Linked DNA regions of Homo sapiens. The protein of the gene in region 1 purifies or fractionates together with the protein of each later gene. This does not show direct contact. Each region holds a gene or a part of one and is shown on either strand. Other genes may lie near its edges. The genes, in order: RNGTT, STYX and RPRD2.

Region 1 (3,655 bases):
AAACCTAGCTAAAGAAACATGGCCAATATTCCATTTTTATAAATCTCAATAAGCTTGCAGAAAAAGGAAAAAAAAAACCTATTATAATATTTTTAAACATTACCAGTTTTAACCGTTCTTTTCTCCTTTTGCCAAAAGAAGCACTTGACCCGGGTTCTGATTCCTTCTTTCCATCCTCATCCTCATCTTCGTCTTCATCATCCTCAAAACACCAATCTGGCAATAGAGGTGGGGGTGGTGCTTCCTCTATGTCACCATACCGACGAAAAAGTTCCTTCAAATAATCACCCTTGTAGATTCCTGGTGGTCTGGCTTGGGCAAAAGTAGCAACTGCTGCTTCGATACTATAGGAAACAAACACCATGCAATTTCCTCGCTATCCTCTATTTATGCAGGCTTATCAAAAACTCACTTATTATATTCAAGGCTCCATATAAAGTACAACAGAAGTTTATAAAATGGGCAAATCACAATCCTCACCCTCAAGTCATTCAATCTATTAAGGGACACATTCATTCTGAAAAGGTTTTAATATAAGGTATTCAGAAAATTCTGAAATTCTAAAAATAAATTGCTATGAGTATATAGTAGAGACCTAGATAGGGTCTGTGAAGAATTTAGTCTTGAAGGTTGAGGTCTGACTCTGCAGCAAAACATCAGTCAAAAAAACAACAATGTGAGCAAAGTAAAAGCATATTGATTTTACAGGAACTTTCAACAGATCCAGGCACTAAGAGTCTAGATCATCAAAGAGAGGATAAGCATAGGCTAAATCTGACATAGGAAACTGAGATCATTGTGGAGAGCATCTGAATGGTCAGAGCTAGAAAGTACATGCAGTACAGAACCACCAACAATGCATACTGCAAAATTCAAAATCATATGTGTACTTCAACTGATTATATTCAAAAAAGGACCTACTATGTGAAAATCTTTGTAAACATAAATAATGATGCTCCCTCAGTCAACAAGAAAATTCAGTTAGTAATATATTCTCTTAAGAATATTGGGTACTAAAGTCGTAATCTCTCAGGATCTAAAAACACACTTCAAAAATAACAGATGCTCAATAAAGACATGTTGATTGGCTTAAATGGAGTAACACTCTCCCAAAAATACTAAAATACAAAATATTGGAAGAATCTGTCTCTGATAATTCTGTAAGAGGTGAAAAAAATCTGAAAAAGTGAATATACAGTTTATGAAATTCATAAGCACTCAAAGTGATTTGCTGGTTAATGCAAAACACCTGGCTGGGTGTGGTGGCTCATGCCTGTAATCCCAACATTTTGGGAGGCCAAGGGTGGAAGATAACTTTAGCCCAGGAATTCAAGATCAGCCTGGGTAACATATGGAGACCTCCTCACTAGACAAAAAAGAAAAAATTAGCCAGGCATGGGTGGCACATACTTGTGGTCCCAGCTACTTGAGAGGCTGAGGCGGGAGGATTGCTTGATCCCAAGAGGTGAATGCTGCAATGAGCCATGATCACACCACTACACTCCAGCCTGGATGACAGAGGAAACCTTGTCTCAAAGAACAAAACAAAACATACATATATACACATACACACATACACACACACACCAAGTAATGGTAGTATAAAGATTAACCATATCTAAAATGAAAAGCAGTTCAAATTACATTAATCATGAGTTCACCAAAAACTTGACAATACAAAATTCTGCAACTAAAATATCAATAAAATTTTTTATTACAAAATACATCTTCCATTATAACAAGATACAAATACCTCCAATCCATTTTCTCCACCAAAAAGGCACATATGAGGAAACCAGTGCGATTGAAGCCATGAGTACAATGAACACCTAGAAAATAAAGTAGCTTTGGTTAAAATTAACAAATCACTGCAGAGGCCACATTTACTTTAAAATTCCAACCTGCAATCAAAACATTTCAGCTAGTTTATAAAATAATTACATTTTTTAATTTTTTAACTTGAAACACCCTTATAACTTGAAAACTTGTCAGTTTGAATTGCTTAGAATCTAATTTATAACTAGCTAGAAGTTTAAGTGTAATATATAGGTTTATTGATGTAAAACTGTCTCTACTGTTTAACAAGTTCTCCTAAAGCTAGAAGATTCCAAGCATTTTAAATAAGGAGGTATTTTCATCAAACACACAACTCAAAAGGACACATAAAACACATACACACAAGATCCTTCTGACCCTCAAACTTTAAATTTCTCTAGTAGAAAAAAAACGGTCCTCTTCATGATCAATGGCATATATTTGCAAAATAGTCAAATCCTATTTTCTAAAATCCAGAAGCTAGAACAGAGCAAATAAACTAATAGAAATATAAATTCATATGGGGCCTGATACTAATTAAATATAATCAACAAAAGTGACTAGCTACAGAAAATAATTAACTGATAGATATATAGTACAATAAAAATTAAGTTACCTTGAAGCTCTCTAGAAACCAACTAACTGTATTTTCAAGTTAGGTTATAATCTTTCTAAATAAATTTTTAAAAGAAAGAAACCAGCTAGGAAAGAAAATTTATTTTCTTAAACTCTTTCTCAGAACATATTCAAGATCATTTTAACTACTGATATGGTTTGGCTCTGTGTCCCCGTCCAAATCTCATCTCAATTTGTAATCCCCACAATCCCCATGAGGGAGAGATCTGGTGGGAGGTGACTGAATCATGGAGGTGGTTTCCCCCATGCTGTTCTTGTGATAGTGAGTGAGTTCTCATGAGATCTGATGGTTTTGTAAGTGTTTGACAGTTCCTCCTTCACATGCCCTCTCTCTCTCTTCTCACCACTAAGATTGTAAGTGTTTGACAGTTCCTCCTTCACATGCCCTCTCTCTTTTCTCACCACTTAAGACGTGCCTGTTTCCCCTTCCACCATGATTGTAAGTTTTCTGAGGCCTCCCCAGGCATGCACAACTGTGAGTCCATTAAATTTCCTTCCTTCATAAATTACCCATTCTCGAGTAGTATCTTTATGTGAGAAGAGACGAATATAACTAGTTTGAAAATAGTAATTAAAACATGACAATATTGCTGACTCTCCTACAGTCTTCAAAATGAAGCTTTTCCTGTTATTTCTATTTAATTAAAGGATATCCTAATATTTAAGCTGTATCTTTTTTTTTTTTTTTTTTTTTAGAGACAGGATCTCATTCTGTCAACCAGGCTGGAGTTCAGTAGCATGATCAGGTTCCACAGCCTTGACCTCCTGGGCTCAAGTGATCCTCCCACCTCAACCTCCAGAGTAGCTGGAACTACAGGCTCACACCACCATCCCCAGCTAATTTTTTTCTATGGTAAAGACAGGGTCTCATTATGTTGCTCAGGCTGGTCTCAAACTCATGGGATCAAGCAATCCTCTCACTTCAGCCTCCCCAAGTCTGGGATTACAGGCATGAGCCACAATGCCCAGCCTGTATCTTTCTAATATTACCTTCTACAAATTATTCTTCTCTGTATATATAGATCATACTGATACAGTGCAACTAAGATCAAATATAGAAATAAACTAGCTAGATTTACAAAACTTCTAGAAGAAAATACAGGAGTAAATCTTTGCAAGCTTAGAGTAGAAAAAGTTTCTTAGATAAAACACAAAAAGCATAAAATGAAGAAAAATACTGATAAATTAGACTATTTCAAAATAG
Region 2 (3,655 bases), on another chromosome or scaffold:
AGGCTGGTCTCAAACTCCTGACCTCGTGATCCGCCTGCCTTGGCCTCCCACAGTGCTGGGATTACAGGCGTGAGCCACTGCGCCCGGCCTGAATTTTTTATAATTATGAAAGAAATACTTTTTTTTTTTTCAAAGATAGGATCTTTCTCTGCTGCCCAGCCTGGATTGCATTGGCATGATTTCTGTTCATTGTAGCCTTGACCTCCCAGGCTCAAGCAATCTTCCTGCCTCAGCCTTCCAAGTAGCTGGGACTACAGGTGCACCACCGGATCGGGCTAATTTTTTTTTTTTTTTTCTAGAGATGGGGTTTTGCTGTGTTGCCCAGGCTGTTCTTGAACTCCTGAGCTTAAGCGATCTACCCACCTCAGCCTCCCAAAGTGCTGGGGTTACAGGCATGAGCCACCACACCTGGCCATGAAACACTTATTCTTTATAAGTACTTCGGAAGGTATAGAATGACACCAAGAAAAATATTTAAATCATCTACAGTTCCACAATTCAGAGAAAACACTTTTGTTAACATTTGGAATATTTCCTTTTAAATCGTTCTCTGTTGTGTATGTGTATTTACGTATATATGCATAGAATTATTAAAGAAAATGAGAATGTTGTATTTTAAAATATCAAACTATATAAGGTGAAACTAATCTTAAGAAAAAACAAAAAAGCCAAAAAATCATACTATTCATTTCTAATGTGTACAGACTTTTTGTTTTAAATTATAATGTTGTTTGTGCAGGTTCTTTATCCTAATGGAAGAACCATTTCTCCTTAAACTTTTACAATACTAGCTTCTTAGAGATTGATAGTTCTACTAGCAGTGCTTGACACTGAAAATGTTATGCGTTAAAATATTTAATTTCATTCTGAGTTAACATTTTTCCCCTGAAGCATTATTTTATGTAACTGGAATACCCAGTCACTTCAGGATACAGTCATTGTCGAAATCCTTGTAGGTTAAATATTGGATTTTCCTCAGATCCTGAGGTTCAGCTTCTGTGTTTTTTTTTGTTTGTTTTTTTGTTTTTTTTTTTTTGTTTTTGAAACAGAGTCTTGCTGTTTCACCCAGGCTGGAGTGCAGTGGCACAATTTTGGCCCACTGCAACCTCTGCCTCCCGGGTTTAAGTGATTCTCCTGCCTCAGCCTCCTGAGTAGCTGGGATTACAGGTGTGCACCACCATGCCTGGCTAATTTTTATATTTTTAGTAGAGATGGGGTTTCACCATGTTGGCCAGGATGGTCTTGAACTCCTGACCTCAGGCAATCCACCTGCCTCGGCTTCCCCAAGTGCTGGGATTACAAGCATGAGCCACCATGCTCAGCCTCAGCTTCTCTGTATTAAAGTCCTGAATTCTTTGAAGTTGTTACCACCTAAATGATCATTGAAAAACTGTATTTTTTAGTGCAAAATTGTTCTTAAAACTAATTTAATAACTTAGCTAATTGCCTATAGTTGTGTTAATAAACAGTGGTCTTAGAAACGCTTAGAAATGGAAGTTTTTTACAAAAATAAGCTAACATATTTAAAATGCCTTTTAAGTATTTTGTAAAGTGTAAAATTCAGTACAGGTGCTCTCTCAGCTAGTTTTTTTTTTTTTTTTTTTTCCCCTTTACTAAAGATGAGTTCAAACAGTGAATGTTTGACTCCTGGTTCCATAGACCATACCTTCCGTTTTTATTTGTTCGTTCTCTTAGACTTTGGACTTCCTCTGAAATGTCCTCTGTAGGTTCATGAGCAGGAGTCACAGGACCACTTAGAGAACAATCTTCTGGTCTTAGAGAAATTGGTAGAAATAAAAGAATAACATAACGATTACAGGTACTTTTGTCTTTATTTCTAGGTCCACTCTAATCTAGAGGAATGTATCTTCCTGCTTGTGATTTTTCTATTTTAACCAGATGGTTCATTATATGCAAATAAAATATGTATTTATTTTTGAGATAAGAATCTTGCTCTGTTACCCAGGCTGGAGTGCAGTGGCCCAATCACAGCTTACTATATCCTTGACTTCCAGGCTCACACAGTTCTACCTCAGCCCCCTTAGTAGCTGGGACTATAAGTGCACACCACGACACCCAGCTAATTTTTTAATATTCTGTAGAGATGGAGTCTCCCTCTGTTGCTCAGGCTGGTCTCGAATCCCTGGGCTCAAGTGATCCTCCCACCTTGGCCTCCCAAAAGAGTTTCTTTTTGCTGGGATTATAGGCATGAGCCATTGTGCCCAGCCTGATGGATTTTTTAAATACTTAAATATCAGAGATGTTAACATGGTGTTTCAGGTTTTAATGCCTTCAAGCAATGTAAAATCTACCACACAGTTCTTGGGAATATGATACTTTGAAAGTTGTTTTGCATTCTTGCCATGGTTAACAAGAAATAATGAGTTATTTTTTTAAAGTACCTTAAGTGTTTTACTTAAAGTGTGCTTATCACAAAATACTCTATTTTCAGATATTTAGTCCTGGATATTGCAGATAATCCAGTTGAAAATATAATACGTTTTTTCCCTATGGTAGGTACCAGTATTTTTTAAATATCATTTAAAATTTATTTATGATTTGACTTCTTAGTTGTGCTTTTTTTTTTTTTTTTTTTTTTTTTTTTGAGACAAGAGTTTTACTCTTGTTGCCCAGGCTGGAGTGCAATGGCGCAATCTTGGCTCACCACAACCTCTGCTTCCCGGGTTCAAGTGATTTTTCTGCCTCAGCCTCCCAAGTGGCTGGGATTACAGGCATGAGCCGCCATGCCCAGCTAATTTTGTATTTTTAGTAGAGACGGGGTTTCTCCATGTTGATCAGGCTGGTCTCAAATTCTCGACCTCAGGTGATCTGCCTGCCTCAGCCTCCCAAAGTGCTGGCATTACAGGCGTGAGCCACCGTGCCCAGCCCCTTTAATTGTGCTTGTAAAGCTTGCTACTTTTACTTTGCTATGACTGAAAATTATGTGATTGTGTTTTTAAAAGAATTATTTGTAGAAAATTTTTTATGATCTCCAGAAATTTGAGGAATCATATTGTGAATGTATTGGACTTAAATTAAATTTTGGCTTCTTTAATTTTTTTGGACTTGTAATAGTTCTATTTATAGCATTTTGGAAATTGGTGAATCAAAATAATTTTTATACATATAAATTAGGAAATTGTTTTCAATAGGTTTCATTTTGTTTCATTATATGCATTTATTTTATGCTTACATTAATCCACATGTCTTTTGCCTCCAGACTAAGGAATTTATTGATGGGAGCTTACAAATGGGAGGTAAATAACATTTCCTTTCCTTAACTAATGTTTATATTTTGATTATTTGTTAATTTTTTAGTTGGTATTTGTCTTAAATGCAGGATATGGAAGTTACAATTATATGTAGTAGCTTACTCCCAAATTTGTATTTTCCCAATTACTTGTTTCATTTGGATAGGCTTTCTGGAGTATCCCTGTAGACTGTTTTCAAATTCTCTGTGAGCTTTCAGTTTCTTTAATAAGAGTCTGCTATATTCTCTACACAGTTGATAATAACAAATTGTAAAGATTTGAAGATATCCAAGTGATTATAGTATATAAGGAGTTACTTTACTGTGGTTTCAATGTAGTTCAGCTACTGACTCAGGTGTTTTTCTATTAGAATAATGAATTCATGTTTTTCAGGAAAAGTTCTT
Region 3 (3,655 bases), on another chromosome or scaffold:
GAGGCAGGAGAATCACTTGAACCCAGGGGGCAGAGGTTGCAGTGAGTCAAGATCATGCCACTGCACTCCAGCCTGGGTGACAGAACAAGAATATGTCTCAAAAAAAAAAAAAAAAAAAAGACAAAATGGATGTCATTAACACAATATTTTCCATTTTGTCCTCCTAGTTCTTCAAAGCATATGCTAATTTACTACAGAGAGGCTAGTCCAATTCGTCTCTCACAAACTGGGAATGTAATTTCCAGCACTGTAGACAGTGTCTGGAATGTAAATTCCAGACAGAATTATCTCTACTTGTAGATTGTAGAACTTTCATCTACAGGTACAGAACTACTTATAGATGAAAAACTGAGGTTCACAGTTTAAGTACTTTGCAAAGTGTCATCCAGTATTAAGTGACCGGAGTTAACATGTTAACACAGGCCTCTTTTATATTTTTCCATATTGATTCCCATTTTACCATTAAAAATGGGAAAGAAGGTCTGGGCCTGGTGGTTCACGCCTGTAATCCTACCACTTTGGGAGACCAAGGCAGGCAGATAGCTTGAGCCCAAGAGTTCAGCCTGGGCAACATGGCAATACCTCGTCTCTACAAAAAACATAAAAATTTGGCCGGGCGTGGTGGCTCACGCCTGTAATCCCAGCACTTTGGGAGGCTGAGGTGGGCGAATCACTTGAAGTCAGGAGTTTGAGACCAGTCTGGCCAACATGGTGAAACCCCATCTCTACTAAAAAATACAAAAATTAGTTGGGCGTGGTGGCATGTGCCTGTAATCCCAGCTACTCAGGAAGCGGAGGCATGAAAATCACTTGAGCCCGGGAGATGGAGGTTGCAGTGAGCCGAGATTCCGCCACTGTACTCCAGCCTAGGCGACAGAGTGAGACTCTGCATCAAAAAAAAACAAAAACAAAAACATAAAAATTAGCCAGGTGTAGGCCGGGCACAGTGGCTCACGCCTGTAATCCCAGCACTTTGGGAGGCTGAGGCGGGCGGATCATGAGGTCAGGAGATCCAGACCACGGTGAAACCCCGTCTCTACTAAAAATACAAAAAAAAAAAAAAAAAAATTAGCTGGGCGCGGTGACGGGCGCCTGTAGTCCCAGCTGCTCGGGAGGCTGAGGCAGGAGAATGGCGTGAACCCGGGAGGCGGAGCTTGCAGTGAGCCGAGATCGCGCCACTGCACTCCAGCCTGGGCGACAGAGCAAGACTCCGTCTCAAAAAAAAAAAAAAAAAAAAAAAAAAAAAAAAATTAGCCAGGTGTGGTGGCATGGTTCCAGCTACTCAGGAGGCTGAGGTGGCAGGATTGCTTGAGCCCAGGAGGCGGAGGTTGCAGTGAGCGGAGATCATGCCCTGCACTCCAGCCTGGGCAACAGAGCCAGACTCTGTCCCTCCCCCACCTCCCCACAGAAAAGAGAGAAAGAAGAACGAAGTACAGAAATGATAATCTGGGCAAATTGCACATCAAGTCCATATGCCTCCAACTGCTGCACCTGTAATTTCTTTCACTAAATTATAAATGCTTCCTTCTGATAAACAGAAATTAAAGCAATTCTGTTCCTTAAGTTCTTGATTAGCTATTTCACATTATGTTGGCAAACATTTACTGATTGCTAACTGTACGCCAGCACTATCCTAGTTGTTTGGGGACAGGGCAACAAATAAGACAAACTTGTCATCTGGTGGAGGGAAGCCAGACAATAAACGTGTAACAAACAAGGTAATATCATATACTGAAAATAAGATGATGTGACAGCAATTGAAGGCACTACTTGAAATAAAGCGAAGCCGGGTGCAGTGGCTCACGCCTGTAATTCCAACACTTTGGGAGGCTGAGGTGGGTAGATCGCCTGAGATCAGGAGTTCAAAACCAGCCTGGCCAACATGGTGAAACCCTGTCTCTACAAAAAATACAAAAATTAGCCAGGTACCGGGTGCGGCGGCTCACACCTGTAATCCCAGCACTTTGGGAGGCTGAGAGGCAGGTGGATCACCTGAGGTCCAGAGTTCAAGACCAGCCTGGCCAACATGGTGAAACCCTGCGTCTACTAAAAATACAAAAATTAGCCAGGCATGGTGGCGCATGCCTGTAATTCCAGCTACTTGGGAGGCTGAGGCAGGAGAATCACTTGAACCTGGGAGGCGGAGGTTGCAGTGAGCTGAGATCGTGCCATTATACTCCAGCATGGGTGAAAAGAGTGAAACTCTGTCTCAAAAAAAAAAAAAAAAAAAAATTAGCTGGGCTTAGTGGTGCACGCCTGTAATCCCAGCTACTCAGGAGGCTGAGGCAAGAGAATCACTTTGACCTGGGAGGAAGAGGTTGCAGTGAGCTGAGATCACGCCACCGCACTCCAGACTGGACGACAAAGCGAAATTCCATCTCAAAAAAATTAAATTAAATTAAATTAATTTAAAATAAATAAAAAACAGATACATGTAATTTAAAAAAATCTATTAAGACTCCGTATTAAAAAAAAAAAAAAAAAAACAAGAAATAAGGTGATCAAAGTAGGTCTTTCTGAGGAGGTAATAGTTGAGATTTGATCTAAACAATGAGAAGGAGGCAGGATGTGAAGAAGCCCGAGGTAGGCAGAGCAGATGGTACAGGACTTACAGATCAATGTAAAAGAAATTCAGACCTTCAACTTGTTGCAATGGGATATCACTGCAGGGTTTTAAAGCAGAGGAATGACATTTGTTTATGCTACAGAAAGATCACCTTAGAAAATGATGGTCTGAGGTCAGGAGTTCGAGACCACCCTGGCCAACATGGTAAAACCCTGTCTCTACTAAAAATACAAAAATTAGCTGGACGTGGTGGTGCGTGCCTGTAATCCCAGCTACTTGGGAGGCTGAGGCAGGAGAATTGCTTGAACCCTGGAGGTGGAGGTTGCAGTGAGCTGAGATCGCGCCACTGCACTCCAGTCTGGACGACAGAGCGAGACTCCATCTCAAAAAAAAAAAAGTAAAGAAGGATAAAATAAAAATATCTCTGGAACATATCCTTAGATAGCCTATTTCTCTAAATTATTTCCTTTTATATGAACAAAAGTCTCATTACACACTGAAATAAAGGATAAAATTAAAATATCTCTGGAATCTAATAGTTACTTAAATTTATACTGAGGTCTAAATATAAATATAAATTACTAAATAACGGATGTCAGAAGAAAAAAGAGAAGCAAAGTGGCATCAGGAAAATGGACAGAAAGGCTGGGAATGCCAAAGATACCTGCTTCACAATTTTTCCTAAAGCTGACTTAGAAACCAAACTCAGAGTCCAAAGATACCTGCTTCACAATTTTTCCTAAAGCTGACTTAGAAACCAAACTCAGAGTAAACTAAGTATAACTGTAAAGAAATAAGAACTTAAATGAAAACAAGGCCCATGCATAAACTGTTTTCATTGCGCCCCACACCATTCTGCTGAATATTTCTCTCAAAACGCTTTATTTACAATGAGACCAGTGAAGTTCATTAAATGTAAATACAAAACGACTAAAATTACCCTTAATCATTTTAGAAAGTTAAATTCCATTCCACTAGAAAAACAACATCATATTTAGCCAAAAGCACTTAACTATATAAACTATACACAATGCACTTCAACTGACACACTGCCCTCCTGGAGCATTCATTTTTTCACTCTTAAGATAT

What was found.
Region 2: the proteins of RNGTT (region 1) and STYX purify together in Homo sapiens (affinity purification with mass spectrometry, with the first as the bait; one large-scale study listed by BioGRID). This does not show direct contact.
Region 3: the proteins of RNGTT (region 1) and RPRD2 purify together in Homo sapiens (affinity purification with mass spectrometry, with the first as the bait; one large-scale study listed by BioGRID). This does not show direct contact.

Annotation. Positions count from the first base shown.
Region 1 is NC_000006.12:88,904,612-88,908,266, forward strand, and holds part of RNGTT (mRNA-capping enzyme), read right to left. Parts: intron 1,830-3,655; coding exon 1,754-1,829; intron 345-1,753; coding exon 104-344; intron 1-103.
Region 2 is NC_000014.9:52,754,099-52,757,753, forward strand, and holds part of STYX (serine/threonine/tyrosine-interacting protein), read left to right. Parts: intron 1-2,452; coding exon 2,453-2,513; intron 2,514-3,220; coding exon 3,221-3,257; intron 3,258-3,644; coding exon 3,645-3,655. UniProt on the Homo sapiens protein: Catalytically inactive phosphatase. Acts as a nuclear anchor for MAPK1/MAPK3 (ERK1/ERK2). Modulates cell-fate decisions and cell migration by spatiotemporal regulation of MAPK1/MAPK3 (ERK1/ERK2).
Region 3 is NC_000001.11:150,367,037-150,370,691, reverse strand, and holds part of RPRD2 (regulation of nuclear pre-mRNA domain-containing protein 2), read right to left. Parts: intron 1-3,655.